Linked DNA regions of Homo sapiens. The protein of the gene in region 5 purifies or fractionates together with the protein of the main gene of each other region. This does not show direct contact. Each region holds a gene or a part of one and is shown on either strand. Other genes may lie near its edges. The genes, in order: ACADL, NSMCE1, ANKDD1A, SMC5 and ZNF597.

What was found.
Region 1: the proteins of ZNF597 (region 5) and ACADL purify together in Homo sapiens (affinity purification with mass spectrometry; one large-scale study listed by BioGRID and IntAct). This does not show direct contact.
Region 2: the proteins of ZNF597 (region 5) and NSMCE1 purify together in Homo sapiens (affinity purification with mass spectrometry; 4 studies listed by BioGRID and IntAct, with this or other methods). This does not show direct contact.
Region 3: the proteins of ZNF597 (region 5) and ANKDD1A purify together in Homo sapiens (affinity purification with mass spectrometry; one large-scale study listed by BioGRID and IntAct). This does not show direct contact.
Region 4: the proteins of ZNF597 (region 5) and SMC5 purify together in Homo sapiens (affinity purification with mass spectrometry; 4 studies listed by BioGRID and IntAct, with this or other methods). This does not show direct contact.

What each region holds. Positions count from the first base shown.
Region 1 is NC_000002.12:210,200,494-210,206,582, forward strand, and holds part of ACADL (long-chain specific acyl-CoA dehydrogenase, mitochondrial precursor), read right to left. Parts: intron 5,304-6,089; coding exon 5,139-5,303; intron 4,190-5,138; coding exon 4,088-4,189; intron 2,952-4,087; coding exon 2,838-2,951; intron 1-2,837. UniProt on the Homo sapiens protein: Long-chain specific acyl-CoA dehydrogenase is one of the acyl-CoA dehydrogenases that catalyze the first step of mitochondrial fatty acid beta-oxidation, an aerobic process breaking down fatty acids into acetyl-CoA and allowing the production of energy from fats.
Region 2 is NC_000016.10:27,250,848-27,256,936, forward strand, and holds part of NSMCE1 (non-structural maintenance of chromosomes element 1 homolog), read right to left. Parts: intron 1-6,089. UniProt on the Homo sapiens protein: RING-type zinc finger-containing E3 ubiquitin ligase that assembles with melanoma antigen protein (MAGE) to catalyze the direct transfer of ubiquitin from E2 ubiquitin-conjugating enzyme to a specific substrate.
Region 3 is NC_000015.10:64,953,389-64,959,477, forward strand, and holds the end of ANKDD1A (ankyrin repeat and death domain-containing protein 1A), read left to right. Parts: intron 1-3,714; coding exon 3,715-3,800; 3' UTR 3,801-5,303; downstream 5,304-6,089.
Region 4 is NC_000009.12:70,256,929-70,263,567, reverse strand, and holds the start of SMC5 (structural maintenance of chromosomes protein 5), read right to left. Parts: upstream 4,591-6,639; 5' UTR 4,490-4,590; coding exon 4,305-4,489; intron 1-4,304. UniProt on the Homo sapiens protein: Core component of the SMC5-SMC6 complex, a complex involved in repair of DNA double-strand breaks by homologous recombination.
Region 5 is NC_000016.10:3,432,091-3,438,179, reverse strand, and holds the end of ZNF597 (zinc finger protein 597), read left to right. Parts: intron 1-641; coding exon 642-1,756; 3' UTR 1,757-5,766; downstream 5,767-6,089. UniProt on the Homo sapiens protein: May be involved in transcriptional regulation.

The DNA.
Region 1 (6,089 bases), on a different chromosome or scaffold from region 5:
CTGAGAACCTCTGATACGTGTAAATCAGTGATCCATAAATGAAAGGGAATATAAAGTATAACATCCTTGCTCTTAAGGAAATCAGAATTTAATCAAGTCAAGTCATACTGTTTTGTTAAATGTTTTCTTGATTGAGTGTACCTCATTTTTAGAGATTCAGAACAACTGTTTTAGGTTTGTTATGTCAATAAGAAAAGTTAGGATGTAAAGACTTTTTTTCAGGATGGAAAAAGTTAATTTGATGACAATACCGGTAGCAAACAGTTCCCAAAACGACAAAGAGAGGGTCTAGATCAAGAGCAAGAGGAAGTAGATGGTAAAAAGGTCTCCCATATTGAAACAAAATGGAGCAAGGCATTATGTAAGGAATAAAATAAGGATAACAGCTAATTTTAATGTGGGCTTACTTTGCCAGGCAATATTCCAAGCGCTTTATGTATATTACCCCATCTAATTGATAGAGACAGGAGACAGCCGAGGGTCTCTGGTGAAACCCTGCCTTCAAGCCTAAACAGCCTAAAGGCTGAAAAACCCGACTGCTGGTCCCAGATGAAGCCTGCCCTTTCCCAACTGATCCTTTCTGAATAATGCCCACCTGTGCACTGGGAGGACGGGGTGGAGCCTCGGGAAGTTCACACTGTTTGCAGAGGAGAGGAGCCTAGCCTCTCCTGTTCCTGTGTGATGACCTAGGATTCAATCTGTGAGGCAGGAGAACTGCTCGCAGGACTTTCTTTCACTTTGCTGAGAGTTCCTTTCTCCTTTTCATTTAATAAACCCTGCCCTACTCAATCTACAATGTGTCTGCGTGCCCAAATTATCCTGGTCCTGTGACAAGAACCCAGTTTTTTCTACAACATAATCCTCACAACAACGCTATGAGGCAGTCTCTGATATTCACAAGTAGGAAAATATTTTATAAATATTTACAAACGTTATAAATTTTAAAGATTTATAGTCAAAATTTTACAATTTTGCAAATCAAATACATTTTATATATTTACAAATAGGAAACTATTTTTGAGAGAGAGAACACGACTAGACTACGGAGATTCAAGTAGCTGTGTTAGGACATAAACCACACTTGAACATAATTTCTAGAATGCTGGTTCTGAAAAGCCACCAAGTTGTTTCATTTCTACCTTTCCCTTCACAAAGCCTTTCAGCCAGTCATTCTACTTAAAAATTTTTAAGTCAAATCCCAACTCCAGGTTTTTTGCTGGTGAGATGTTTTGCCAATTTGATGACCACATGAAGGAATTATAAACTATTCCTTCATTTAAAAAGAAACTATAGGGTCTAAAATTTAATTAGCATATTTAGTGACTGCGGCCACTATATACTGAGTTCTTTTGCAAAAACCCTCAAGTTCCTGGGAAAACTCAATCCTAGGTAAACACAATCATCTGTCTTTTCTCTATGTTTGTACCTGGGAAGCTAAACTCTTATCATAAAGCTGATTGATACACAAAAAGCAGAAAGTAGTTTAGTTTCTCATTCTGAAGAAGATATTTCATACCTCCCTCACCCTTCTGCAACACCTCCATGCCTCCTTCACTCACCTGTCTTTCAAGGACTTTCTCTATTGTTATTTATTTATTTATTTGTTTATTTTTGAGATGGAGTCTTGTTCTGTAGCCCAGGCTGGATGGAGTGCAGTGGTGCGATCTTGGCTCACTGCAACCTCTACCTCCTGGGTTCAAGTGATTCTCCTGCCTCAGCCTCCCGAGTAGCTGGGATTAGAGGTGTGCACCACCATGCCTGGCTAATTTTTGTATTTTTAGTAGAGACAGGGTTTCACCATGTTGGCCACGCTAGTCTCGAACTCCTGACCTCAAGTGATCTGCCTGCCTCAACTTCCCAAAGTGCTGAGATTACAGGCGTGAGTCAGTGTGCCTGGCCACGTTATTTAAAGAAATAGAAGTCTTCTATAAAGAACTTTTGTAGTTTTCTACCAACAGAGTGATGTATCTGTCTGAACTCATAGATGTCCTTTGCTCCTTTCTTCCTGTGCAAATGAAGGAATCCCTCTCCTGTTGATGGGAAGGCCTATCTTTCCATGTGTCAGCATCCACAAACTCACCCTTTCTCAAAGACCTTACGCAGTTGATTATTTCCTTCCTATCTACAACCTTTCCCTCTTTATTAAATCCTTTCTTTATATACAGGTATTAAAATATGCACCCGCATTCCCATCCTAAAAATAACGACAAAAAATTAATAACTCCCAAATATCTCCCTTGAATCTCAAATCTCCTTCCCCTCCCCTCTTCGCTTACCACCCTTTCTCTCAACTACCATTCACAGCCAAACTCAGGAAAGAGTTGCCTACCATCAGTATTGTTTTACGTCCTCATTTCTATCTACTCATCGGGTGTGTCACCCTCCACCTCCATTAATGGCTCTTACTAAATAATCTCCATATCATTGTATTCAATGAACACTCTTTGCCCTTCGTCTTATTTTTCCCCTAAGCAGCAATTGATCCCACTCCCTACTCCATGAAGCCCTCTTTCCTTCCAGCTTCTGTGACAAAGCTCTCCTGATTTGCTTTCTCCTTTCTGTTTATTCATTCTCAGTCATCTTACAGGCTCCTCCTTTTCAGACAATATGAATTCCAAATATGAATTCTACCTTTAAATCTTGTAGTCTTCCTCAAGGACTGTGTCCTAAGACCACTCCTGTCTTACTCTCTACTATCTCTCCTTAGTGATCTCATCCACTTCCATGGTTTCTAATATCACCTTACATGAAAATAACTCCAAACTTCTATTTACCCCAGGCCATTTCAGATTAGTAAACTGATACCATCTAATACTAAACCACAGTGACAAGCTTACCTGTAGGTGAGCAACTGTTTTGCCAAAAGCTTTTCTTTGTTTAACATAGTTCCTGGTTTCTTCAAACATGAATTCACTAGCTGAAATTGCCACATCAGCAATTAACAGCCTTTCCTATAACACAAAAATTAGGTCTTAAACATTACTCTAATTATGCAAGTGATTTTCACACAATTTCAATTACGATAAATCCTATAAATTATCTTTATAATAAACTCATAAAGATTAATTTATATCTTAACTCCTTATAAGAAAACAGATTTATGAGATTCTTTTGACATATCTCTAATCACTTTCTAAAGCAAATCCTTTATTTTTATGAATGACTACCTTTATTTTTTTATAATCTTTTTAAATTTTTAAGAGACAAAGTCTCACTCTGTTGCCAAAAATGGAGTACAGTTGCACAATCATAGTTCATTACATCCTGGAATTCCAGGGCTCAAGTGATCCTCCCACCTCAGCCTTCCGAGTAGCTGGGACAACAGTCACATAACACCATGCCCATGAATGACTGTCTTCATTATATATATGCAATTTAATTTTTCTTCTCTTTACTCACATGTGAGTTAAAAACAATCCCCAGTTGCTTATTTCAATTTATTAATCTCTGCACACTGTATGACTCAATATATCTGTGGAAATAAACATCTTAAAGCACATAAGTTAAATTCTACCTATTAATGTAAAAGTAGCCTTAGTCAGTTTGATTCCATCATGCTGGTGTTTTTCATGGCAGTCACTAGGCAGGAGTACCCCCTTACACTGGCATCTGAGGCTCAATAATCACTTGTCAACCATACTTTAAAACCATAGCTGTTTAGGGACTGACCCTATGTGGCTAAAACTTTTCAGTCTGAATTTTATACTTTTCCCTTTGATTCACAGTTATTATTTAAAAACTGGCAAACTATCAAATGTTTTGCAAGACATTTCCTTACAAAGAGCTAAAAGTTTTTGAATTGTAGTTAAGAAGCTAAAATCATTCTAAGAAGGAATCACAGAACTGAAATATCTGTTTTTCCTACTTACTTTATAAGCTTTGATTGGATATTACTGAGTTCAGTTATTTACTTAACTACCCTATAAAACTCATACTTTTATTACAACTTTAATACTCAAATGATTAGCTATTTCACAAGTTTTGCATGTATAAATTTGAATGCATAATATAGAAATAACATGTTTCTATATTATTCTATTCCAATTCATTATTCAGTCAAAAGATGGAATCTTTAAACACTTCTGACCTGTGGAAGCTCTTTCATGATGTAATAGAAGCCTTTATTCTCTTCTCCAAGTAGGGCACTAGCTGGCAACCGTATATCTTCAAAGAATAGTTCTGCGGTATCCTAAGAGACCATACAAAAAATGTAGAGAATGGTCTCATTTAAATCTTCCAATAACCCAGTGAATATTGAAGTGAATATTATTTTTTCCAAAAAAACAAAACACAAATTGGAAGCCAAGTTGGAGTAGTTAATGAACATAACTAGTAAGTGGTAAACCAGGGATTTGAACCCACAGCCATCTGATTCTAAACCTTGTGGCTTTCCTACTGCAATACACTATCATTCCAGCTCTAATACTGTCCAGTTCTCAAGGTACTTGGAACTAAGGATTTCTAATACATATTAAGCAAAACATGCATTTTTGGTAATGTATAGAAAGAACATTTTCTGGGTTTTTTTTGTTTGTTTGTTTTATTTTTTTTGAGACAGAGTCTCATTCTGTTGCCCAGGCTGGAGTGCAGTGGCGTGATCTTGGCTCACTGCAACCTCTGCCTCCTGGGTTCAAGTGATTCTCCTGCCTCAGCCTCCCGAGTAGCTGAGACTACAGGTGCCTGCCACCACACCCAGCTAATTTTTTATTATTAGTAGAGATGGGGTTTCACCATATTGACCAGGCTGGTCTTGAACTCCTGACCTCAGGTGATCCGCTGGCCTCAGCCTCCCAAAGTGCTGGGATTACAGGTGTGAGCCACTGTGCCTGGCCACACTTTATTTTTATTTCATATTTTTCTTTAATGCATTTTACAAATAGATGGCTTGTTACCATGCAGTTAATTTTGCCATTTCTAAAACAGATATTCAAAATACCTTGATTCATTTCTATTGCTGACCATCAGAAAGATAGAGTGGTATAAATGAGAATAAATCTCATTACCACATCAGAAAAGCATATTTTAGGAATTCAGCATAGGAAATAAAATTGTGCCACATGTAATCCTCTATGTAAGTCTCCTATCTGATTAACAGTAAACTCAATTAGTATCTGAATATGATTTACATTATCACTCACCTGGGCTTTTAATCCCATTTTATGTAGCTTTCGTCCCTTGATAAATCCTTTCATTCCATTTTCCACCAGAAAAAGGCTAATACCATGGGCAGGGGAGGGAGCTTCATGATTTGTGACCGCAACTACAATCACAACATCACTTAATGACCCATTACTGATGAACACCTGCAAAACCCCAAGTACATTATTAATGCACCATGATAATTCAATTCTATGTGCAAGTTATGATTGGGAGAAAGTATATTACAGAAAACTAAAACAGACAAGACATGCTTGATACCTCTCTCTGTACCCTACCCAAATATCTGCAAAGTTGATTATTCACACATGATGTTATCAAGGATCAGGGGAAAAATTACTTAATGCTTCAAAGAATGAAACCTATAGATTTTCTTTTCACTATTAATATTATACATAATAATAATAAACAGAGATTATTATGTTCTTTAAAAATGAAACCAAATTGTCTATTATGATGATAAATTGTATTTTAGAAGGAAGCCACTGATAAGAAAAGAAAATCTGGCCGGGCCCGGTGGCTCACACCTGTAACCCCAGCACTTTGGGAGGCCGAGGCAAGAGGATCATTTGAGCTCAGGAGTTCAAGACCAGCCTTGCCAAAATAGTAGAGACAAAAAAATTAAAAATTAGCTGATGTGGTAGTGTGCACCTATATATAGTCCAAGCTACTCAGGAAGCTGAGGCAGGAGGATCGCTTGAGTCCAGGAGTTTGAGGTTACAGTGAGTTATGATTGTACCACTGCACCCCAACCTGGGTGACAGAGTGAGACCCTGTCTCTAGAAAAAAAGAAAAGAAAATAAAAGAAAAATAAAAAGAAAGAAAATCTGCTGTAAATGGCACTATATTATTTATTCTCAGATTTATCAGTTTTTGAAAAGGACTATTTTTGATTTTTGTAATTGATATCCTGCTTCCTTTAAAATGGTCTA
Region 2 (6,089 bases), about 24 Mb from region 5:
TTTTTTTTTTTTGAGATGGAGTTTTGCTCTTGTTGCCCAGGCTGGGGTGCAATGCACGATACCAGCTCACTGCAACCTCTGCCTCCCGGATTCAAGCAATTCTCCTGCCTCGGCCTCCCGAGCAGCTGGGATTACAGGCATGCACCACCGTGCCCAGCTAATTTTGTATTTTTAGTAGAGACGGGGTTTCTCCATGTTGGTCAGGCTAGTCTCGAACTCCCGACCTCAGGTGATCTGCCCACCTCAGCCTCCCAAAGTGCTGGGATTACAGGCGTGAGCTACCGCGCCCAGCCTTAATTTTAATTATTTAAAATATATATATATATATATATATATATATATAAATATATATATATATATAAAACTCTGTAGAGTTCAGACTCCTCACTTGTGTTCTAAGTCTATTTATCCTATTTATCCCCTGCTACTTAGGATCCCTTAGCTTCCTATAAAAAACTTTCTGCTACATCACACCAGGGCAAACATGAGATTTTGTCAAATACTTTTTCTGTACCTATTGAGATAAACACAAGATTTTTCTTTTTTAGCTTAATATGGTGAATTACACTGATTTTCAAATATTAATACTAAATCAACCCTGCAAAATCAGGATAAACCCTACTTGGTTATGTCGTACCATCCTTTGTAAACACTGTTAGATTAGATTTGCCACAGTTGGGTTTAGCACGTTAACGTCTACGCTCATGAGGAGTCTTGTTTGGGGTTTTCTTTCCTCGCAATGTCTTTGTCTGGTTATGGTATCAGAATCATGCAGGTCTCATAGAATTAGTTGTAACATATTCTCTTCAATTTTACAGAAGAGTTTGGGTAGAAATGGTGTGAGTTCTTCCTCAAATGTTTGGGCCGGGCACTATTCCCAGTTCTGTGAATAGCTGGCATTGTTTTCTCTAATCCTTCAACTAGTTCTCTCCCTGGCCTTAAGAAGTTTTCTTGCTCATCAGTTCTCAGCGGGATCCTTGAGTGGAGGGGCACTTTGGACATCTCAAGTTTTCTCTCTGTGCACCTCTGGTCCACCTTATACTCCATTGTAAGTACTCCGTCCTGCAACCTCTACCTGCCTTAGTCTCCCTGAACTCTCATCTCCATCTCCTCAACGCAGGGAGGCTGCCTAGCTCTGCCTGGGTTTCCCCTGTGCCATGGCCTAGAAACTTTCTAAAGGCACTGAGCTGGGGCAGCTGTACTGCTCACTCCCACTATCGCTTGTGGCAGAAGAAAGTTACTTGGTCTTTCCCCCAGGTTCCTGGTACAGAACTTCTAAAACTCTTAGAATTCCCTGAGTCATATAGGTGATAGAAGCATCTTTTGCTCTAATGAGGCAACTCTTGGCAGGCCCCTAGGATGGGGGCTGGTCACCAGAATGACCAAGCCTCAATAAAAAACATGGAACTTTCAGCCACTCCCCAATATCTGAGGAGAAGAGAGGGACTGGAGATGGAAGCACTCGTCAACGGCCAGTGACTGATCAATCATGCCTGTGTAAAGAAACCTCCATAGAAACCCAGGAATGGCCAGGCACGGTGGCTAAATAAATATTTCAAATCATTTCTAATGGTGGATTCACAATTTTGTGGGATTATTTTTCTTAGAGTGTGCCAAATTCAATAATCAACAGGCCCTATAAAACCTGAAACTGGGCTGGGTGCAGTGGCTCACGCCTGAATCCCAACATTTTGGAAGGCTGACGCAGGATGATCACTTGAGCCTAGGTGTTCGAGACCAGCCTAGGCCACAGAAGAAGACCCCCGTCTCTACAAATAATTTAAAACTTAGCCGGGCGCGGTGGCTCATGCCTGTAATCCCAGCACTTGGGGAGGCGGAGGCAGGCGGATCACCTGAGGTCAGAAGTTCGAGACCAGCCTGGCCAACATGGTGAAACCCCATCTCTACTAAAACCACAAAAATTAGCCGGGTGTGGTGGCTCACGCCTGTAGTCCCAGCTACTCAGGCGGCTGAGGCAGGAGAATCGCTTGAACCTGGGAGGCAGAGGTTGCAGTGAGCCGAGATCTTGCCATTGCACTCCAGCCTGGGCGACAAGAGCAAAACTGTCTCAAAAAAAATAAAAATAAAAATAAAAAAGAAACCCTTGAACGACAGGATTTGAAGAGCTTCGGGTTATTAAACACACAGAGGCGTTGAGACGGTGGTGCAAGTAGAGAGGGCACGGAAACTCCATGCCACCCCCACTTCCCACAGCTGGCCCTGTGATCTCTCCTATGTGGCTGTTCCTGAGTTGTAGCCTTTATAAAAAAACCACGTAAGTCAAAATGTAAGTAAAGTGTTTTCCTGAGTTCTATGAATCATTCTAGAAAATTATCAAATCCAAAGAGGGAGTTATGGGAACCACTGATGTACAGCCATTGGTCAGAAACACAGGTAGCCCAGGACTTACAACTGGTGTCTTAAGTTGGGTCAGTCTTGTGACACTGAGCCCTTTAACTTGTAGGATTTGATGCTAACTCCAGGCAGATAGTGTCAGAATTAAACTGAATTATGGAATGCCCAGTTGTTATCTAGAGAACTGGAGTAGTGTTAGAAAAGATACCACATCAAGTGTCAAGAGAAAAAGAAACCCTCATTGCCCATCTCTCGAAAGATCACTGGCCTTGACTGACGAATGTCCAGTATTTTATACTTTGTCCATTTTTGAATTGTTTCAGGCAAGAAGGTGTACTGAGCCCTGTTGCTCCATACTGGCCAAAAGTGGAAAACCTCAAACCCAAGCCTTCTCCACCACCCCCGAGGCCTCCTGTGCCGACTTCTATCAAGGAGGCCTATATTGGAATCATCTGACCCCTTGTCTGTATGACTCATGAGAGCCATGGTAAAATAAAAATTCAATCTCTGAGTCACCAGTCCCTAGCACAGAGGCCTGGCTCACTTGAGATTCTAGGGAAGCTTTGCTGGTTGAATAAACGTATGTGTGGATGCAAGTCCTGGCTCAAAAATCTAAGGTCCTCTAAGAACACAGGTCCCTAGCGCCATTCCGAAAGGCTCGACCCAAGGCCTGCACTGAACTTGAGAACAAAATCTAAACTCTTCACTAGCCAGGAGAATTGGGGACTTTGTTTCCCCTTAACGACAGTAAGAAGAGAACCCAAACCAAAGCCTAGAATAAGAAGTGATTTGATAAACTGGACAAACACCCTGGGAAATGGCAATTAGAATAACTTGCAATTTCAATCACTCCTTTGTTTCATAATTTTCCTAGAAGCTAAATATTTTTCTATTTGGTACAAGGGGATTTTCCTGGCCATCTCTTCAAAAGATAGGAAATTAATAATATTGGGTCTTGCGAGTATTCACTTAAGTTTAGATAATTTCTGTCATTTCCTGTTTAAAATCTCCCTAATAACAAGAACATGCAGTAACAAGTTTTTTGGCATTTTTCTTAAATGAAGATAGGACAAAATAGATTGTTCTACCCTGTTCACCCTGGCCATAACCATATCTAGGTGCAAAGAAATGGTACACAGTGTGAAGAATAAATCAATTCCTAGACACATTCTACAGGACTTTCCTAAATTAGATCATAACAATTTTAAAGGTCAAATAAAGGCAAAAACACTTTCAGTCTTAGTACCAAGGCATCATGTGGCTCCTTGCAGTGAGCTGTGAAACTTCCCCACCAACATGAAAGCTTACAGTCAAGACTCACAGGAGAAAAAAAGAGAAAAGGACTAAATTGTCGTGTAAATAAGAGATTCAGGATTAACACAAGCATTCTTTTATTTTTTTGAGATGGGGGTTCACTGTGTTGCCCAGGCTGGAGTGCAGTGGTGCAACCTCAGCTCACTGCAACCCCCACCTCCCCTGCTCAAGCGATCCTCCTGCCTCAGCTTCCTGGGTAGCTAGGACCATAGGTGTGTGCCAGCACACCTGGCTAATTTTTTGTACTTTTGGTAGAGACTGGGTTTCACCATGTTGCTCAGGCTGAAGACAAGCGTTCTTATGCACATTTCTGGAGGATATTGAGGGGTAGGTTTAAAGTCCAACCATGCTTTTTTTTTTTTTTTTTTTTTTTTTTTTTTTGATACATGGTCTCGCTCTGTCGCCCAAGCTGGAGTGCAGGGGCAGGATCTCAGCTCACTGCAGCATCTGCCTCCCAGGTTCAAGCAATTATCCTGCCTCAGCCTCCCAAGTAGCTGGGACTACAGGCATGCACCACCACACCCGGCTAATTTTTGTATTTTTAGTAGAGATGGAGTTTCACCATGTTGACCAGGCTGGTCTTGAACTCCTGACCTCAGGTGACCCACCCTCCTCAGCCTCCCAAAGTGCTGGGATTACAGGTGTGAGCCACCACACCCAGCCGCTACTATGCTTTTTAAAGAGCAAGAGAAACTAGCTTAACAGGTATAACATCCCCTTTCAATACAAAAGTCTCTCACCAAAGATCCTTCTCTGCTGGTACAACTGCGGCGCATCTACCTTCACCACGGAGATGGTTCTCAAACCTAAAACTGTCTCTCTCACTCTCTGCTTTGAATACTTCAAGAGGGCCACACTGTCCGCAGAAGTAAAAAGCCATTACTATGGTGTATAGGGTTCTTCATGATCTGCAAACCTACACACGAAAAGAATGTATTCTCTTCCCACACATCATATATTCTTGTCTAGGGATTCCCAGGGTAGGTTATCAGTAGGTCAATTAGGTTTGGATACACAGAATTAAACACAGTTCAACAGGCTAACTTGTTCCTGGCATTACTGAGCTCCCAGAATTCCCCATGGAACACCTCCATGGACCAGTGCTCTGGAGAACGCAGATGCTACTCTCCAGACACTTCAAACTGCTTCTTCTCCGTCTAACACGCCACCTTCTTTTATTCCTCCTTCCTTTGCACACCTTGAAAGAATATTCGTTTCTGTTCTGTCTCCCTCTTCTTATTCCCATTCACTGCTCACCTCTCTGGGATCAGGCTTTGAACTCTAACATGCTGCAGAAACTGCAGTGCTCCAAATGTGACACCTACCTTTTCTCGTGTCCCTTCACATTTTGAAAAGTATAAAATGATCTTCATCACTTTTGAATGCATTTGCATGCAAAGGCATAAAAGTGGCTGGGAAGAAGATGTAATGCACTCATGAAGTGTTTGCCTTTGGGGACAGGAGGGACACCCTTTCTGGTGTCCCTTCGCCCTTTCACAGCTCACTGCAAGGAGCTACAGGATGCCTGTGGACTAAGAATGAAAGCATCTTTTTGCCTTTTTTTTGTGTCCCTTCACCTGTGTACTTGCTCCCTGTGTACCTGTACACGCCCTTTCTCATACCTCTTGGCTTGGCTCACTTCTATGTCATTTTTTATCTTTTTCTTTTGAAAATTAAAAATACAGAGAGAAAGGCAGAATAAGGCAGAATAAAAACCAAACGCCTGCATTCCCATTCATCAGAGGTGACAACCAGTAGACTACACTAATTAATGTCATGTTGTTAGGCTAATAATGTCACGTTGGCTTCAAGACTTTTCTTTTTAATAAAAGAACATAACAGGATAAAAGTGAAGGGTCCTGTGATCTCTGCTGACAGCCCACTCCCACTCTGCTTCTCCTCACAAGCACCTCACAAGTGTCCTGCGTCTTCTTCTGGTCCACTTTTATACCTTTACATGCAAATGCATTCATAACCAATGAAAACGATTTTGTACTTCACAAAAAAACAACATAATCACATCATACAATTACTCATCCATCACCTTTGTCACTGCATAAAATCTAATCAGTAAGATCTACCCATATTGGCACACAACTCAACAATATCTGCCAATGCTAATTCGACTGATCTATCAACACTGATCCTACTGTTTCTTCCACCATCTCCAGTTACTTAGAACTTAGCACCATGTCCTGTCTCCAAGGGCTTCTTATTTGCCCCTCCCAGTGGCCCCGTAAGATGCCCCAAATGCCTTCAGCTGACACAGGGCAGGGACACACTCTTCAGGTCCGGCCCAGTCTAAGGCTGTGCCCTTAAGTGTTGTGCTAAGCTCCCCCATTTTTTTGTTTTATAATTTATTTTCTTTTTTTCAAATAAAAAAATAGAGAGGGTCTTGCTACATTGCCCAGGCTGGTCCC
Region 3 (6,089 bases), on a different chromosome or scaffold from region 5:
CTTAGTTCTCCTTTTCTTCTCCTCCTCCTCCCTTCTTCTTCCTCCTCCTTCCTTTTCTTCTTTCTTCTCTCCTTCTTCTTCTTCCTCTTCCTTCTCCTTCTTCTTTAGTTCTTCCTCCTCTTCCTTCTCCTTCTTCCTTCTTCTCCTCTCCTTCTTCCTTCTCCTTCTTTCTTCCTCCTTCTTCTTAGTTCTTCTTCTTCCTTCTCCTTTTCTTCTTTCTTCTCTCCTTCTTCTTCTTCTTCCTTCTTCTTCCTCTTCCTTCTCCTTCTTTTCTTTCTTCTCCTTCTTTTCTTCTCCTTCTCCCTTCTTCTTTCTTCTTCTCCTTGTTCTTCTCCTTCTTCTCCTCCTTCTTCTTTCCTCTTTTCTTCGTTCTTCTTCCTCTTCCCTCTTTTCTTTCTTCTGCTTTCTTCTTCCTTTTTTTCTTCTTCCTTATTCTTTTCTTCTTTCCTCTTCTTTTCTTCTTTCCTCTTCTTCCTCTTTCTTCTTCATTCTTTCTTCTTCCTCTTTTCTTTCTTCCCTCTTCTTTCTTCTCTTTTTCTTTTTTCTTTTCTTCCTCTTCTTCTATTGTTTCTTTTTTTCTTCTTTCTTCCTCTATCTTCTTCCTTTCTTTCCTTTCTTCTTCCTTCTTTCCTCTTCTTTTCTTTCTTCTTCCTCTTCTTCTTTTCTCCTTCTTCTTTCTTCTTCCTCTTTTCTTCTTCTTTCTCCTCCCTCTTTTCTTCTTCCTTTCTTTTCTCCTTTCTTCTTCCTCTTTCTTCTTGTTCCTTATTATTCTTTCTTCTTTCTTTTCTTCTTCTTCTCCTTCTTTCTTGTTCCTTATTCTTTTCTTCTTCTTCTTCTTCCTCTCCTTCGTCTTCTTAGTTCTTTCTTCTTCTCCTTCTTTTCCTTTCTTCTTCCTTCTTAGTTCTCCTTTTCTTCTCCTTCTCTTCCTTCTTAGTTCTTCCTTCTTCTTCCTCCTCTCCTTCTTCTCTTCTTCTCCTTCTTCTTCCTTTTCTTTTCTTCTTCTTTCTTCTTCCTTCCTCTTCTTCCTCCTCTCCTCCTTCGTTCGTCGTCTTCTCCTTCTTCTTCTTCCCTCTTCTCCTTCTTCCTCTTTTTCTTCTTCCTTCTCCTTCTTCTTCCTTCTTCTCCTCTTTCTTCTCCTTCTTCCTCCTTCTCCTTCTTCTTTTCTTCTTCCTTCTCCTTGTTCTCCTTCTTCCTTATTCTTCCTTCTTCTCCTTCTTCCTCCTCCTTCCTCTTTTCTTCTTCCTTTTCTTCTTCCTTCTTCTTCTCCTTCTTTCTTCTTGTCTCTTCTTCTTCTCTCCTTCTCCTTGTTCTTCTCCTTCTTCTTCTCCTTCTCCTCCTCCTTCTTCTTCCTTCTCCTTCTTCTTTCTTTTTGTTCTTCTTTCTTCTTCTCCTTCTTCCTTCTCCTTAGTTGTTCTTCTTCCTTGTTCTTCTCCTTCTTTTTGTTGTTCTTTCTTCTTCCTTCTTCTTCTTTCTTCTCCTTTTCTTCTTCCTTCTCCTCCTCCTTCTTCCTTCTTCTCTTGTCTCTTCTCTCTCCTTCTTCTCCTTCTTCTTGTCTCTTCTTCTCTCTCCTTCTTCTTCTCCTTGTTCTTCTCCTGCTTCTCCTCTTCCTCTTTCCTTCTTCTTCCACTTCTTCTTCTTCCTCTTCTTCTTCTTTCTTTCTTTCTTCTTCTTTTCTCTTTTTTTTGATATGGAGTCTTACTCTGTTGCCAGGCTGGAGTGCAGTGGCGCAATCTTGGCTCACTGCAACCTCCACCTCCCAGGTTCACGCCATTCTCCTGCCTCAGCCTCCTGAGTAGCTGGGACTACAGGTGCCTGCCACCACACCCAGCTAATGTTTTGTATTTTCAGTAGAGACGGGGTTTCACTGTGTTAGCCAGGATGGTCTTGATCTCCTGACCTCGTGATCTTCCCCAGGGATGGGGTGTTCCATCTTCTGCCCTGTCCGGCAGAGTAGCTGCTTGCCACCTGAGGCTGTCATGCACCTGAAATGTTGGCTAGAGGGACTGAGAAGCTGAAATTTCTTATTTCTCATTATTTGAAATTGCAGGCACCCATAGCAAGTGGCATCCATGGTGCTTGGCTTTGAGGTGCCAGGCAAGCACAGCTTGTTCTGGGGCTTGGCTGTACCAGCAGGGGGATGTGTTTCTGGGGAATTGTGGCTCTGGAAGCTTCACGGTTTCCCAGAATGTGGAAAATATATCTGTGCAGGATAGAAATCCTGCCCAGAGGCTGTTTCTGTCTCATTTGAGCTCTCCTTCATGTGGCAGAGCTGGCTGTGGCGTTTAGGAGCCTACATTTTAGAAAAGCTTACCTCAAAGTTCTGCATTGAGCCTGAGACTGGAAAGGAGATAAAATAAAACAGCTGACAGGAGCTTTGGTAGTCACACATGCCTGATGGGGTGCACAGGGCCACAGTCTCTGAAAGGCAATTTGGCATTGTCTGTCCACAATATACTTTTATCCATTGGTCCAGCAATCCTACTCTAGGAATTTTTCCTACATATAAACCTGTATGCATACAAAATGATAGACATACAAGGTTATTACTCTGAAAAAGCAAAAGATTGGAAACAAACCAAGTGACTGGCTACAGGGGACTGGTGAAATAGAGTATGTTCCATCCACACAGTGGAATTCTGTTCAGCAGTGAAAAAAGGATGAGAGTGCTTTCCAAGTGTTGTTATGGAAAGAGCTCCAGGATAAATTAAGTGGAAAAAAACCCCAAGATACAGGTACATTAAACCGAAGGAAATTGGTTCAGAGGATAGCTGCACCATTTTTAGAGAAAAAGCTTCCTTTCTCTCTTCACCTTTTGCAGGTGATGTATTTTTTTCTTTGGATTCCTTTTTTTTTTCTTTTTTTTTGAAACAGTTTAGCTTGGCCGGGCGCAGTGGCTCATGCCTGTAATCCCAGCACTTTGGGAGGGCAAGGCGGGCAGATCACGAGGTCAGGAGATCGAGACCATCCTGGCTAACACAGTGAAACCCTGTCTCTACTAAAAATACAAAAAATTAGCCAGGCATGGTGGCGGGCACCTGTAGTCAGTCGCAGCTACCTGGGAGGCTGAGGTAGGAGAATGGCATGAACCCGGGAGACAGAGCTTGCAGTGAGCCGAGACTGTGCCACTGCACTCCAGCCTGGGCGACAGAGCAAGACTCTGTCTCAAAACAAACAAACAAAAAAAGAGACAGAGTTTCACGCTTGTTGCCCTGTCTGGAATGCAGTGGTGTGATCTTGGCTCACTGCAACCTCCGTCTCTTGGGTTCAAGCAATTCTCCTGCCTCAGTCTCCGGAGTAGCTGGGATTACAAGCACACACCATCATGCCCGGCTAATTTTTGTATTTTTAGTAGACAGGTTTCACCATGTTGGTGAGGCTGGTCTTGAACTCCTGACCTAAGGTGACCCATCCACCTCAGCCTCCCAAAGTGCTGGGACTACAGGCATGAGCCACGGAGCCCAGCCATTTTTGGATTCTTAAAACTTAAGAAAAATTCTAAAACATATTTGTGATCTATTACGTTATGATATATGATAGGGAAAAAATAGACAACTTTACCTACCACTAAGTTATATTTAATCAGCATTCTTTTGTTTCCTAACATATATGTTGCGAGCTAAATGTATGCTCTTACTCTAAATCTTTCTGAGCTACACTTTAAGGGTGATAATTGTTTTGTTTTGTTTTTTGAGACAGTCTTGCTCTCTCACCCAGGCTGGAGTACAATGGCGAGATCTCAGCTCACGGCAACCTCCGCCTCCCGGGTTCAAATGATTCTTGTGCCTCAGCCTCCCGAGTAGCTGGGATTACAGGTGCATGCCATCACAGCTGGCTAATTTTTGTATTTTTAGTAGAGATGGGGTTTGGCCATGATGGCCAGGCTGGAAAATTGAAACATAATTTCACAATTATTCCTTTTTCCACCTTAAATAATAAGAGTAGAATACTTTCTGTGTTTTTATCTTATACACATGAATAAATGCTATGGCTTATCACAGTTACAATGTGTTTTCTGAAAGTAAAGATTATTTTACCTTGAAATTACAAAAATTATTTTCAGTTTTCCAAAATTCTATCTTTAAACCTAAATAATTCAATTTCATGGATGCACAAATGTTTATTGAGAGTCTCATATTCATGCTTTTCTTCACAGCACTATAAAGTTGGACTTGGAAAATTTGGACAGCCATTTGCCATTGTAATTTTTATTCTTTTTTCTCCTGATTATTTGACAAAACTTGTATCCACATTGTAGCTGTTCATGTGTCTGCTTCTATTGCATATTGTAAAATTATTAACTACTTCCCAAAATAGTATTTCTCTCAGCAGATATTTCTTTGGTACTACCATGTATTGTGTAACTTTTGGGAAAGTAAGGTGGCTTCCCTGCTCTCAGTGAAGCATTTTATTAAAAGAATAATTATAATTAAAAAAACACGATACAGATCAGTGCATATAGTATATTACTAATAGTATGCTGTTAATTGTGTAAGAAAGAAAGGAAATTAGAAAACATATTTGCATAAATAAAAGCTAGACAAAGGCTAAGAAACTAATCAGGTGGTTTCCCTGGGGTAGTAGGATAATGGGGAACAGTGGGGCTGGGACCGGGTGGGAGAAAGAGTTCTCAGTGGTTCCTTTCTATACAGTTTTAACTTTTGAAATGTGTGAGAGTGTTACTTACTGAAAACTGAAAGGATATGACATGCTGGAACAGGCAAAACTACAAAGACAGTAAAAAGATCAGTGATTTCCAGGAGCTGCAAGGGCAGTGAGAGGAAGGGAGGGATGAGGAGGTGGAGCGCAGGGGATGTTAGGGCAGTGAAAGGTTCTGTATGACACTGTGATGGTGGGTACATGACATTGGGCATTGGTCAAAACCCATAGCATGTACAGCACAAAGCGTTTGCTCTAATGTGAGCTATGGACTTTAGTTAATAGTAACGTGTCAATATTGGTTCATCAGTTGTATCAAATGTACCACACTGATGCCAGATGTTAATAATCGGGGAAACTGTGTGTGCTGAAGAGTACGTGGGAGCTCTCTGTGCTATCTGCTCAATTTTTCTCTAAACCTAAAACTGTTCTAAAATAGAAAGTCTGTGAAAAAAAACAAAAGTAAAGTTATAAAAGGAAAAGAAAACAGAGGCTTTAAATTAAATCATCTATTCCTTGGGAAAGGTATTTTGTACCATATGGGACTGAAATCATTTATCTGGATGAATTTTATAAAATGAATTTTGTAATTTTTTTCTGAGAAAAAAAAGTTCTTAAATACAATAAAATTGAAATGTTGAAATATATCTCTCAAATCCAGTACTCATATCTTTTCTTTGGGAAATACAGGGTGAAATTCCAGGTCAGACAAGCTGTCACAGATTGGTGCTATGTAAGCACAATGGCTCAACTCACGGACAGTGAATACTTCCTGAGTGGATTTTGTGCCAGGTGGCCTGCCAGGAGTGGGTACAGAGATGAGAGCCCACAGTTCCCTCCCCTTCCCCAAGCTTAGGGTCTAGTAGGGGAGAAAGGCTTGCACACCAATAACTGTAATAAGGTGCAGTCCACGCTGTAATGGATGGGTGCAAACAACTATGGGACTCCTTCCTGGGGGAAGGAAGAAAGGAAGGGGAGGAAGCAGCTCACAGAGGAGACAGAAGTGGGGAAAAGGGCAGTCCAAGCCAACAGCACAGCCTAAGCAATAGCCCAGAGGTGTGGAGAGGGACCCCCCACCTTGGGGAGTAGCGTGGCTGGAGCACAGGATGCGTGGAAGGAGGGGGAGCTGTGACCTGAGGGGCAGGAGGGGGAGGGGTGCAGATGCATTGGAAATTGTTCCCCACCCCATCACCAAAAATTAGATGTCTCATAAAGTAGAAACTGAACAGAATAGACTCCGCCTTTGGAAATGCACATCTGCTTGTCCTTTCAGAGTCTACTTTACCTTGCTAATTGTGACTCTCCTTGTTTCTAAAATGTATATTTAAATCACTTTTCCAATGGATATTTACTTACAGTTACTCCCTCCCTTTTCTTTGAGACGGAGTCTTCCTCTGTTGCCAGGCTGGCGTGCAGTGGTGCGATCTCGGCTT
Region 4 (6,639 bases), on a different chromosome or scaffold from region 5:
GACTCAGACATTCTTTTAACTCGCCTTTGAATACTCTGAATTTGAACCCATAAAGTGTCCTTTGTCCACAGCATTTCAGTTAGCTCTCAGGTAGCTGCCAACTAATTCCTCATGAATAAATGCTTAGCCTGCTATTCATCTGCTAAGTATATAAATAACCAAGCACACACATTAATATTTTAAGAAATTAATGATTTTGAAATGTCGGGTGGTAATAAAAATACAGGTGGCAAAGACGTATTTTCTGGCAGGTTTGCTAATCCCACACCTCTACACAGCATCTACTACTTTATCTTTTTAGCTGTTTTGTTCTGCTAGCAGCTGGGTTTCAAAAGAGCCCTTTATTATGGTTACAATAAAACTAGTTTGGGAACTTCAGACATGTAGGAAATTACCTGACATGGAACTTCTTACGCTCAACACATGAAGCCCCACTTGGATTTCCTGTTGTGAAATCTCTGTGTAAATGTTATACTAAAACGATGAAACTGGTATTTAAGAAAACAGAACAGGGAAAAGCATGAGAATTTCTGGCCTATAAAATACGCATCGATATTACAAATAGGGACAGTTGCCAAAAACAAAGCCTCTGCAATTTTTTTTTTTTTGGCGGGGGTAGGCGGGGGATTTTTCTTGCCTTTAGCTACCCAGATCAAGTGTCTGCACTGTTTAAAATCAATCTTCTGATTCTACGATGTATTTATTGGGAATTCCCTTATCATGAGTTTCCTTTCCTCTGAGCTCCCTCTGAAAGAGCTATTGGTAAAGACCCACCCTCTTATCATTCCATATACTTCACGAGGTATCTCATGTATTCTCTATGGCCTCAATGATTCCTTTTTTTCTCCAAGTCTTTGCATACTATCTACATGCTGAAAGCAGTCCAGATGACCTCTATATGCAATGGTCACCTCAATAACGCTATTTGAATGTCCCATAACAGTCATCTTAAACTTAACACATTTAAAACGAAATCCACCATCTTTCCCATCCAAAACCACTCTTGTGGTCTCTTAGTGAATGGTATTATCATTCATGCCATTGACCAAATCAGAAACCTAGGCATTAGTTTTGCATCCTCTTTGGTTCTTTCATCTCTTTTGACTCCACCCAAACCACCACTCCATCATCCAATCAATCACCAAGTGATGCTGGTAGAATTGTAAATCTGATGTCACTTGTTAAAAAAGAAAAATTAAGGAAAAACCCATCACAGCCGAGTTTCATCTTTTTCTACTTTTTATCTCCTTTCCCTATTCTCTCCTTAGACCTCTAAATTCTACCTATAATGTACTTCTTTCAGTTTTGTGACTATAATTCCTTATTGCTCTGAAGTATTTGCACATGTTATTCCTTCAGCCTCCAAGTGTCTTCCTCCACTCCCAACTCCATTTGACTTGGTTCACTCACTACTCTCTTCCAGGCCATTTACATTCTCTAACTACCCATCTTATTTCCTTGCTAATTCTCTAAGCGCATCTTTCTCTACCTCATGCCTAAAACTCAAAATCCCCTCATTAAAATAAACAGCATCTCACCAACCTCTGCACTTCCAGCTACCTTCTCTTTCTTCTCTTTGCATCCGGCCTGCAAAGTTTTCTGCTTCCACTGCTTCATTAAAAGGTCAAAGATTTCCCAATTGCTAAATGCAGTGGGCTCTTTTCAGTCCCGCTATCTGACTTCAATGTAGCAGGTGATATTTTTGAAACATTCTTTTTCCTTGGCTTCTTTGATAATTGTCTCCCACTGTTTTCATCTTACCTCCCTGAATAGTTCCTTCTGACTTTGAGTCCTTCTTCAGTTCACCCTTAATGTAGGCATTCTCCCAAGACTCTGTACATGGTCTTCTAGTTCTTCAATTCATAATTCCTATTGGGCAATCATAACCAGTTCTGCAACTTCATCAATCACCTGTATGCATGACTCCCAAAACTCTCATCTGTTCATATTTTCCTCTAAGCTCCAGACTCCTACATTCTGCCTATAGAACATCTCTCTTAGATGCCACAAAGGAAACTTTAAGTCACAGGATCTAAGAGGCATTTATTATTCTCCTCAAACTGCTCCCTCTTCTGAATAGCACCTGATCAATTAGCTAAGGCTCTTACACTTGGGAAAAATGCTGCATTCCTCCCTTTCCCCCATGCCTCACAACTATTCTGTAGCTGGATCCTGTCAAATCTCATTCCTTCACACTCTGATCATCTCTTGCCTTCGTATTGTCTTTTTGCTTCCAATCTTGCACCCTTTCTAAATCATCCTCTACAGTGCTTCCAGAATAACACAGAACACACGTCATTCCCTGTTGAAAACACACCGTGGCTGCCTACAGGATGATGTCGGAACTTCTTAGCATAGTAAACATACAGGCCCCTGAATGGTTGCTTACCCTTTGTCCAAATACTCATTCACATCCTATATTCTTGCCTTACTAAAATACTTGACGCTTTCTAAATATACCAAACTATTTCAGACAGTTCCTTCTGTCTTCAATGCTCTTCACTTCTTGCAAGACTTTCCTATCTTCTTAGGCGGGTGCAGTGGCTCATGTCTGTAATCCCAGCACTTTGGGAGGCCGAGGTGAGTTTCTTGAGCCCAGAAGTTCGAAACTAGCCTGGGCAACATGGTGAAACCCCATCTCTACAAAAAAATTTTAAAACATTAGCCAGGTATGGTACGCGCCTATAGTCCGAGCTACTTGAAAGGCTGAGGTAGGAGGATCACTTGAGAAGGGGAGGTCCAGGCTTCACGGAGCCCTGATCATGCCACTGAGCTCCAGCGTGGGCAACAGAGCAAGACCAAAGACTTTCATATCTTCTTTACAAAGCCCTTTCTCATACTCGTAGACAAAACTAACCACTTCATCCTTTGTGAAGGATCCTGATATATGTTGTTATGGTATCTAACTCATTTGATTACATTTATCTTTCCTGATCTGGATTCAAATAGCAATGCAACTATGTAACAGCTGCGTAAAACTGGGCAAAATAACCTACTGAGCTTCTTTCAGCAATGGAAATTATCAAGATAGAGTTGTTATGAAGAAAGAATGAGTGCACTATGTACCTGGCACACAATAGGTGCTTGAAAAAAAAAGGTAGTATTGTTATTACAATTCTGTTATCCTTATGCCACTATGTGCAAGCTTTAAAAAGACTTCCGGCCGGACATGGTGGCTCACGCCTGTAATCCCAGCACTACGGGAGGCCGAGGCGGGCAGATCACCTGAGGTCAAAAGTTCCAGATCAGCCTGGTCAACACGGTGAAACCGCGAGTCTACTAAAATACAAAAAAAAATAGCTGGGCGTGGTGGCGGCTGGCTGTAATCCCAGCTACGCGGGAGGCTGAGGCAGGAGAATTGATTGAAACTGGGAGGCGGAGGTTGCAGTGAGCCGAGATTGCGCCACTACCTTCCAGCCCGGACGACAGTATGACACTCCGTCTCAAAAACAAAAACTAGCCGGGCGTGGTGGCGCGCGCCTGTAGTCCCAGCTACTCGGGAGGCTGACCCAGAAGAATCGCTTGAAACCGAGAGGCGGAAGTTGCAGTGGGCCGAGATCGCGGCACAGCACTCCATCCAGCGTGGGCTACAGGAGCGCAACTCCGTCTCAAAAAAAAAGAGGAAAAAAAAAAAAAAAAAGACCTGGAACAAATGAACTGGAAGGTGCTAGGCAAATACATGATATATTTAAAACTTACTAAATTCTAAAGCGGTAACTAGTTGTCTGAAGGGGAGAGGGAGGAACCAGGGAAGAAAACTGGGTTTAGTGGGGTCAAGGGTTTGTAGGGAGGTCCAACAATTGCCAGTAAGTGTTTAATTTTTTTGTACCTGTAACCTCCATTCCCGAACAACCTTTACCGTCTTATCTACTCCTCTCTGGCAAATGCCTACCCTAAGAATCCGCCACAGCATCACTATCACGCCGAATTAACTGTTGCCTCCTCTTAAGTTCCCGGGGACAATACTTCTGTGAATTCCAGACCAGGGCCGCTATGGATCGCGACTCCCAGCGGGCAGAGACCTACTCCCTCCTACAACCACTACCTGCTACATGACACCTTTGGAAAACCTTGGCTGACTAAATTTAAAAACCACATCACCCAAGGCACACATCTCCTACATCATACACGTCAATCTCCACAGCCTACGTAGGAAAATCCTCAAGGGAACCCCGGCACGAATTCAAGGCCAGACCCACAAGCCAGGTACACACCCACACGCCCACGCCCGCGCGCTGCCGGAGCCCCGGGGCCTGCTGGCCAGCACACCTCCACACCCGCGGCGCGGCCTCCGGGCAACTTACAGGAAGTTCTCCATCGAGATGCGGACGATAGAGCCTTCCACGAAAGGCCCGGACGACTGCAACAGCGGCAGCTGCGGGGCCGAATTCTTCCTCTTGCTCGGGACCTCCGACGAAGGGTCTCTCGGGAGAGCTCTCTTGGAAGGCTGGGGGCTTGGAGTTGACGTCTTCTTGCTCGGAGTCGCCATCCTGGCTTCCTCAGCGTCCCACAGCGACTTCCGTTCCCACCGTCCGGCAGCCCAGGCGCCCAAGCGCCCATCCACCCAGGCGCCCCGCTCCCGCGCGAACTGCCGCGAACTGTTACCGCGCGCTCGCTCCCGCGATCTCGCGCCGCGCCTGCGCAGTTCAGGTCCGGCGACGTCAGCAGGCCCGCCCCGCCCCTCCCGCGCTCCGCCGCGCTGTGCGAGGCCCAGACTGAGGGCGAAACAGCAGGCAGGACTGGGTGGAGACGTTCGGGGACGTGGCAACTGGAGTTTCTTCTCCGTATATTTCGGCATTCAGTTCCTTTTTTTTTTTGTTTTAACTCAGGAAAAAATCTCAATTGCGTTTAGTATTTTGAAAGCCACTTTATTGCTTCCCGAGCCTCAGTCATGTGTGGTGGGAGGCTGCTGTGGGTGGCACCTGGGGCGTCCACGGCCGCCAAGGCGGGAGGACGTCAGGCCCTGCTTGCTCCCACCCCTTCCAGGTGAGAGCTCCCGGGCACGCCCGTCGTTGGCTCTTCGTCCTCTTGGTGTTCTTCCCTGTTGCTTCAAATCAGGTTCCTGTCTCAAAAATCCGAAAAAGAAATCCTCCCAAATGACTCTGTGCCCGACGCTCCGTTAAGGCATCGTGCTAGGCGTTCTCAAACTCGTGAAATGACTACACTGCACAGGTTAACCTCATTGCTACTCTTCCCCTTGCCTCCTAATTCTCTGGTTAAACTTCCGCCCCCGAGGTTTCTAGAAATCCCTGAGCTGGAATGCGCTGCCTTCATTAAGAGGGTGTTCTGCTTCCGTCTGCTCACATTCATCTAGTAAGCCCTCTCGTTAAAGAGGAGGCAGCACACCGAGGCCTGTCTAGAACTTCTTTCATTTAACCAACAGTGAATATCTAATCTACAAGAAACTGGAGCCGTGGCAGTTTAGGAGCCTGCCAAGGTTGCATCCCTGGGAGCTTATTTTCTATTGTGGGAGACAGGAAAAGAACAAGTGAATCAACTGTGAAATTAAATAATTCAAACTTAAAGCTGTTGGAACTTTAAATTATTCTGAGCCTTGCGAAGAATGTGGCGATGGGGCCTGAGTCCCATGGCATACAGCTGCAATGTCTGCCTTGTTTTTTCCTATAATCAGGAAGACCAAACAGAGACAGAGGTAAGACCCCCTCAGATCACTACCCCCTTCATAAATTAATATAGTTATCTTCCTTGGAATGTAGCTATCTATAACTAATCTAATCGCTGTAATTTATGCACTGCTCTTGTATTGAAAATGTACTCCTGCTGAACCTTCTCTGTTTCTGCCTGTGTAAATGAAACCTTAACTTCACTTTGGAACATTGACCCTATTTGTTTGGAGTTGGTGTTTCCAGGTGGCTGTCCTCAAGCTTTGCGTTAGAATAAACTCTATACTTAATGATATTTTCTGAATTTCACTACTTAAGGCTGACACAACAAATGATTAGCATAATGTCAGACTGTGACAGGTGTTAGGAAGAAAACAAAATGAACCTGATGGGTGGGAGGTACGGAAGGCCTCTTAGAGAGGTGGTGGTGTTTAAGATAAACTCTGAAGGACGAGAAGAAACTGTGACGATCTGAGAAAAGAGCACCCCAGGCAAAAGAATTTTGCTGGAACATACCAGTAAGGACAAAAGCTCTGAGGTGGGAAGGCCAGTGTTGCTGCAGAGCAGTGAACAAGGTTGCAGAGCAGAACCTTGTCCATCGTGGAAAAGCCTGAATTTTATTTTTAAAGCAATGGGAAGCCATTGCAAAGTTTTAAGCAGGAGAGGGCCATGTTCTGACTAAAGCTTTTAATTTTTTTATTTGATTTTTTTTATTTGATTTTTTTGAGACAGAGTCTCACCCAGTCGCCCAGGCTGGAGTGCAGTAGTGCCACCTCAGTTCACTGCAAACTCTGCCTCCCTCGTTCAAGCGGTTCTTCTGCCTCAGCCTCCCGAGTAGCTGGGATTACAGGTGCATGCCACCACACCTGGCTAATTTTTGTATTTTTAGTAGAGACGAGGTTTCACCATTTTGGCCAGGCTGGTCTGTAACTCCTGACCTCAAGTGATCCGCCCACCTCGGTGTCCCGAAGTGCTGGCACTACAGGCATGAGCCACTGTGCCTGGCCTTAAAGTT
Region 5 (6,089 bases):
GCAATGGCACATCTCAAACTCCTGAGCTCAAGTGATCCTCCTGTCTCAGCCTCCTGAGTATCTAGGACTATAGGCATGTGCCACCATGCCTGGCTAATTTTTAAAAATTATTTTTTGTACAGATGGGGTCTCACTGTGTTGCCCAGACTGGTCTCAAACTCCTAGCCTCAAGTGATGCTCCCACCTCAGCTTCCCAAAGTGCTGAGATTACAGACGTGAGACACTGCCCAACCCCTCTCTTTGTTGATAAATATGAATCCTAATCTTTTTTCCAATTGTTAATTGTTCTGCTGTCACTTGAGATAGCTTCAAAAATGAAAGGCTCTTGAGGCCTAAATAGATTAGATGGAAAAGTTCACCTCTAGATAGCTGCTACTGAGATTGTCCTTAGTACCTATCCCACTGGACTCTGACTTAGTTATAGCTATTCTCTCCTTACCTTTGGATATTCACCCAAAACTGGATCTTCTGGGAGGCCAGGAGAGTCTGCTTGGTCCTGATTTTGTGTGGTTAGTGTCTGGGTTATAGAATAACCCTTCTAAGGTTTCCTGGTCCTGTTTGTAACTACCTTAGCTTACTTTTTCCCCAGTATCCCTTGAAGATATTGTCTATGTTTTGCTTTCTTTTGTTTTTATCAACAGGAGAGGAAGGCAAGCCTGAGATTAATCAGCAGTTAAGCCTAGAGTCTATGGAACTTGACGAGCTTGCCTTAGAAAAGTACCCCATTGCTGCACCCCTTGTCCCTTACCCAGAAAAATCCTCTGAGGATGGAGTTGGAAACCCTGAAGCGAAAATATTAAGTGGAACTCCCACTTACAAGAGAAGGGTCATCAGCCTTTTAGTTACCATTGAAAACCACACCCCATTAGTAGAACTCTCTGAATATTTAGGAACCAACACACTTTCTGAAATTCTTGATTCTCCCTGGGAAGGAGCCAAAAATGTGTACAAATGTCCTGAGTGTGACCAAAACTTCAGCGATCATTCATACCTAGTTTTGCATCAGAAAATTCATTCAGGAGAGAAAAAACATAAATGTGGTGACTGTGGAAAGATCTTCAATCATAGAGCCAACCTGAGGACACACAGGAGAATCCATACTGGTGAGAAACCTTATAAGTGTGCCAAGTGCAGTGCCAGCTTTCGCCAGCACTCTCATCTATCCCGACACATGAATAGCCACGTAAAGGAGAAGCCCTATACATGTAGCATATGTGGTAGAGGTTTTATGTGGCTCCCAGGATTGGCACAGCATCAGAAAAGCCACAGTGCTGAAAACACCTACGAATCTACTAACTGTGATAAACATTTTAATGAGAAACCAAATCTTGCTTTGCCTGAGGAAACATTCGTATCAGGCCCCCAGTACCAGCACACTAAGTGCATGAAGAGCTTCAGGCAGTCCTTATATCCTGCCCTTTCCGAGAAGAGCCACGACGAGGACTCTGAACGCTGCAGCGATGATGGGGACAATTTCTTCTCATTCTCAAAATTCAAGCCCTTACAGTGTCCTGACTGTGACATGACCTTTCCTTGTTTCTCTGAGCTTATTTCCCATCAGAACATTCATACAGAGGAAAGGCCCCATAAGTGCAAAACATGCGAGGAAAGTTTTGCTTTGGACTCAGAACTTGCATGCCACCAGAAGAGCCACATGCTAGCGGAACCTTTTAAATGTACCGTGTGTGGGAAAACTTTCAAGTCGAATTTGCATCTCATTACTCATAAGCGAACTCACATAAAAAACACCACGTAAAGTAAATATAACAAATTGTTATTAGTGATTGGGCTTTTCAGTATCTGTATGGTGGGAAGCAGTTACTGTATATGTCCCAGGCAATGTGCTAAGCACTTTACACACATTCCCATGTAATACTTAATTCTCAGCACAACCGTGATTTAGGCAGTATCATTTCCATTTTATAAGTAGGGATGCAAAATCCGTGTCACTAAACTAGTGAATGAACCCAGGATTTGAACTCAGTTACTGTACAACTGTGAGCCAGAAGAAGATACACAACTTTTGTTTAAATTCAATTTTCATTAAAATGAAGGCTCTTGCTAAAGTTATTTTAATTTTGTTTACGTAGTTTCTGACTTTTAGAAGGAGGAGAATTTATTTATATTTTGCCAGTTCTGCAGACATATCTAGGAAAGTAAATGCTTTTATATGTTTTATACTTTTTTTTGCTATAACTATTTGAATGTAATACTTGTATAAGATTGCTGTTCTACATGTGAATTCCCACAGGCGTTCAGAAGTTTTTTTCTGCCCTGTAAAAGTTCCCAAATGGGTAGACTAGTTTATATTTTGATGGCCATTAGTATCCGGAGTTCTCTGTCATGGTTCTGATGCCAGGGGCACATACTGGCATTTAGGACCCAATTGTTTGCAAGGAGTTTTGGAAGTCTAACTGCAGCCCTTTTCTGGAGGCTGGACTTGACTTGGGGAGGGGGAGAAGTACTTGCTCTTTTCTAAGATTTGCCTCCAAATTGCTACTGAAGCACATTACCTGTCTTACTATGAATAATTGTAATTGTTTCTCAGTGAGCATGCTAGCTACTTTAGATATATTATGTAATTTAATCTTCAGAATCTGTGACAGAGAAAAAAAATCTTTGTTTCATAAACGAGGAAACTGAAGTCCTCAGAGGGTAAAGTCAGTTCTTTGCCCAGCACACAAATCACATTGTGGTGAAACTGACATTAAGCTTGGGTTTCTCTGACTCCAAAGGCCATGCAGTCTGCAAGACTGCGGCATTTGTTGGCATTTGCACCACGTAGTAGCACTGCAGGCAGCCAGGGAAAGGGGAGCTGAGATAGGTGAGGGTGGTCCTCATGGAGGCGATTCTGTGTGCTTGCATCCTGGAACCCCTTCATTCCCTTTGTGCTGTACCCAAAGCCTGACTAACATATACAGTTACAAAGCAGCAGAAGACTCTCCAGGACTTCAGGTTTGAATTCTTGTCCCTCTAATCAGATGAGAGATTTCACACTTGGCAGAGTACAATACTGAAGGTCTTAACTGGGTTTTGGTTTTTTAAAAAACACCCATAACATTTCCTCTCCATCTCCAAAGAAAATGCATATAGAAAATTGTTAGATTTTAACCAAAATACTTGATAATATATAGATCTTTAGATATTGCTATTATAGATAAATACTGGAGCAAAATATTATTAAATGGTATGGTTATTAATGTTAAAGAACCACAGAATGTTGTAAATATAGATTCATATACAATTTCTCATTAAAGTCGATTGTATGCCTATCAGCAAAACAATATTTACATGGGTTTTGATTAGGATGGAAGAATGCTCTCATTCTATTTAAATAGACAGTATAAAAGTACAATATTTGCTAAAATTGAATTGTTGCTGGGAATTTTTGCTGGGAGAAAAGATAAAGGACTCTTGAGGACTAATTATATGGAAGGTAGCAGAAGGTGGTCCTACAGAACAGCAGATTGAGGACTAAATATACAAAAAATGCTGGCTACTCAGCTAAGCTCTTATTACTGAGTAGAGGCAGGAAGATACTGTTCAGGTGAGAGAAAAACTGAAACTAACAAAAACATCCCTAACCCAGAGAGAGTTTCTCTCTCTTTGTCATTCTTGTCTTGTTTCTTGTTTGCAGATCCACAGTTGAGACAATGTGCTGCTCTGTATGTCAAGGTCAGACTTTGGCTGTTTGTTTCTGATGTCTCCACTCTTAGGAGACAGGACACCAGCTTCCAGGTTTCTCTGAGGTGCTTTGAAATGTGTAGAAAGATAGTCTCCAGTTAGATTACTTATTAGGCAACTCTGAGATACCATGACCTTTGTTAAATAACAAGAACACCACCTCCTTGCTCTCCTGCTTCTGCCCTCAGTGGGAGAAACTGGCAGGAGCCTCATCAGCACATATCAGGGGCCCTAAGAGTTCAGTCAAAGATCTAATGAGTCACAGGATGGGGGATGAAATTGGGAAAGGTCTGGATTAGCAGAGTTGCTGCAGAAAGAAGTAGAGGGGAATATCTTAGAAGGCACTTGGACAGAATGGGGGTGATATAAAAGATGTATGCTGTCATTTTTGTTTTGGCTCCTAGAAAATATAGCAGAAAGTGAGAATTTGTGCCATACATCCTGTTCTGCACCTTAATATGGAAGTTTGCCTTTCCACACGAGTCTTCCTTCACAATTAACCTCTAATTTTTTTTTTTGCAGTTTTCTCCAGATTTTGGAAGATTACGACAAACTTCCTAAAAGATTAGAAAAAATAGCCCTTTTCAGAAACATTAACATACGTGTGGGTAGAACTAAAATGGCTTTTTGGTATAATACTGTTAATGATTAGTATGCAGAAAAAAATGAAAACCCCGGAAGTGTCAGTTACTGTGAAAGAGGCATATTTTCAGTTGTGCTTATTGTGCAGTTGTACTTAAATACATTTGCTAGATGTAATTCAAGCTGCTTTACCCCCAGGGAATTGAAGGAAAAGATATATCTGCTGGTGAGCTTCAGGCTTTTTATGATGATGGCATTTCACCCTTCTGTTTACAGTGTCAACTGATGGAGATAAATTCCATAAAATTGTCATTAACTCAGATACTAGCCTTCCATGTTAGGTGCTATTCACAAATACTGGATAAAAGTTAATATGGGAATGAAAAACTAAATGCAAGAGTTTATTGCTATGAATGATTGGTTAACTGCATTTTGCAGCATGGAAATCAACACACTATGAGAGTGAAAACTTTGTGCTGAATAAATTGACTCAGACAAATTTCTCCGTTTTTGTCGTTGATGCAGTGATGAAAATGTATATCCAACAGTTCCTTAACATGATTGCTGGAATAGTTAAACAGTCTTTTAAACAGTCGTCATTGATGAAAACAGCATTTTTCCAATGGAATTCAGATGTCAGCAGTTTACATTTTATAATTTAAGAAATTGTGGAATGTAGTTGTTTTGAATGAGGTCGACTCAGAATAGTTTTATTTAGAGCTTTGTTGCTACAGGTGGTAGTCTATTGACACCTCCTCATTTAACATAGAAAATGACTAACCCAATAATTCAGGGAGTTAAAACTCAAATGACATTTCACAGCAAATGCCATTTTGAGTCTTTGCCTCCTGAGTTTCCATATAATTAAGTGGCAATGTTCTAGTGACTGCAGCATAAGATGTCATACAATCTGAAACTGCAGAGTTTGATCAAAGTAATCTGCAATTTACTGCCTATGTGTACAAAGGGAGACATAGCAGGTTATAGTTTATATGAATAGTCTATTTTGAATGTTCATTAAACTTGTTATCCCTGTGGGATTTTAGTAGGAAAGTGTATTTGCTTTGACCATCTGTTTAACAAAATGATGTTCATTACATTAGAAGTGTATGTATTCATCTGGTTTAGTTTTGTAATTTAGAAGAGCTATTGATCTGATTCAAAGATAACCATTACCCATCTTTCCAAGGCCCATCTAAGTAGTACAGGTGTTTTGTCTTTTAAAATTGACAGTCCTCTTTGCATTAAGTCTGTAGGGGGGGAATACAATATAAATATTCTTCTGTGTAAACGTAAGAATGTGCTGTAATCTCCAGTTCCTTTGGATACCTCAGAATTCTATTTATTGTATACACTTATACTGTTTATTCAATGTTTTGGGTCTTACTCTTTTTGACGTATTCTCATCAGTCTTCACTCTAGTTTGCAAGCTCTGAAGTTATTGATTACGTCTAATGTGCAATTTGGCTTCTATTAAATGCTATTTTATGATGATGGCAATGAAGTGAACTTTTTAAAAAAAATACGTGGTTTTAGGTGGCAATCAGGTTAATTTTGAAGACTGTTAGGATTCTGGTTTAGAGACAGAGAGTGAAGGACTTCGTGCTACTTAATAAGGGAAGTAAAATCGCTTGCTCCCTGGAACTCAGCAGAAAATTCTGGGTCATTCTGGGAAGCTAGCGCTAGACCTCAATTTCCTTTCGTCTTTGCTGTACACAGAAGTACAGGGGCAAGGACCTCTGTCTTCACGGAGCAGCTACTGCCTGGCACGGGTTGCCACTTAAAGCTTGGATTCCGAGTAGCGGATGTGGTGAGTAGGACTC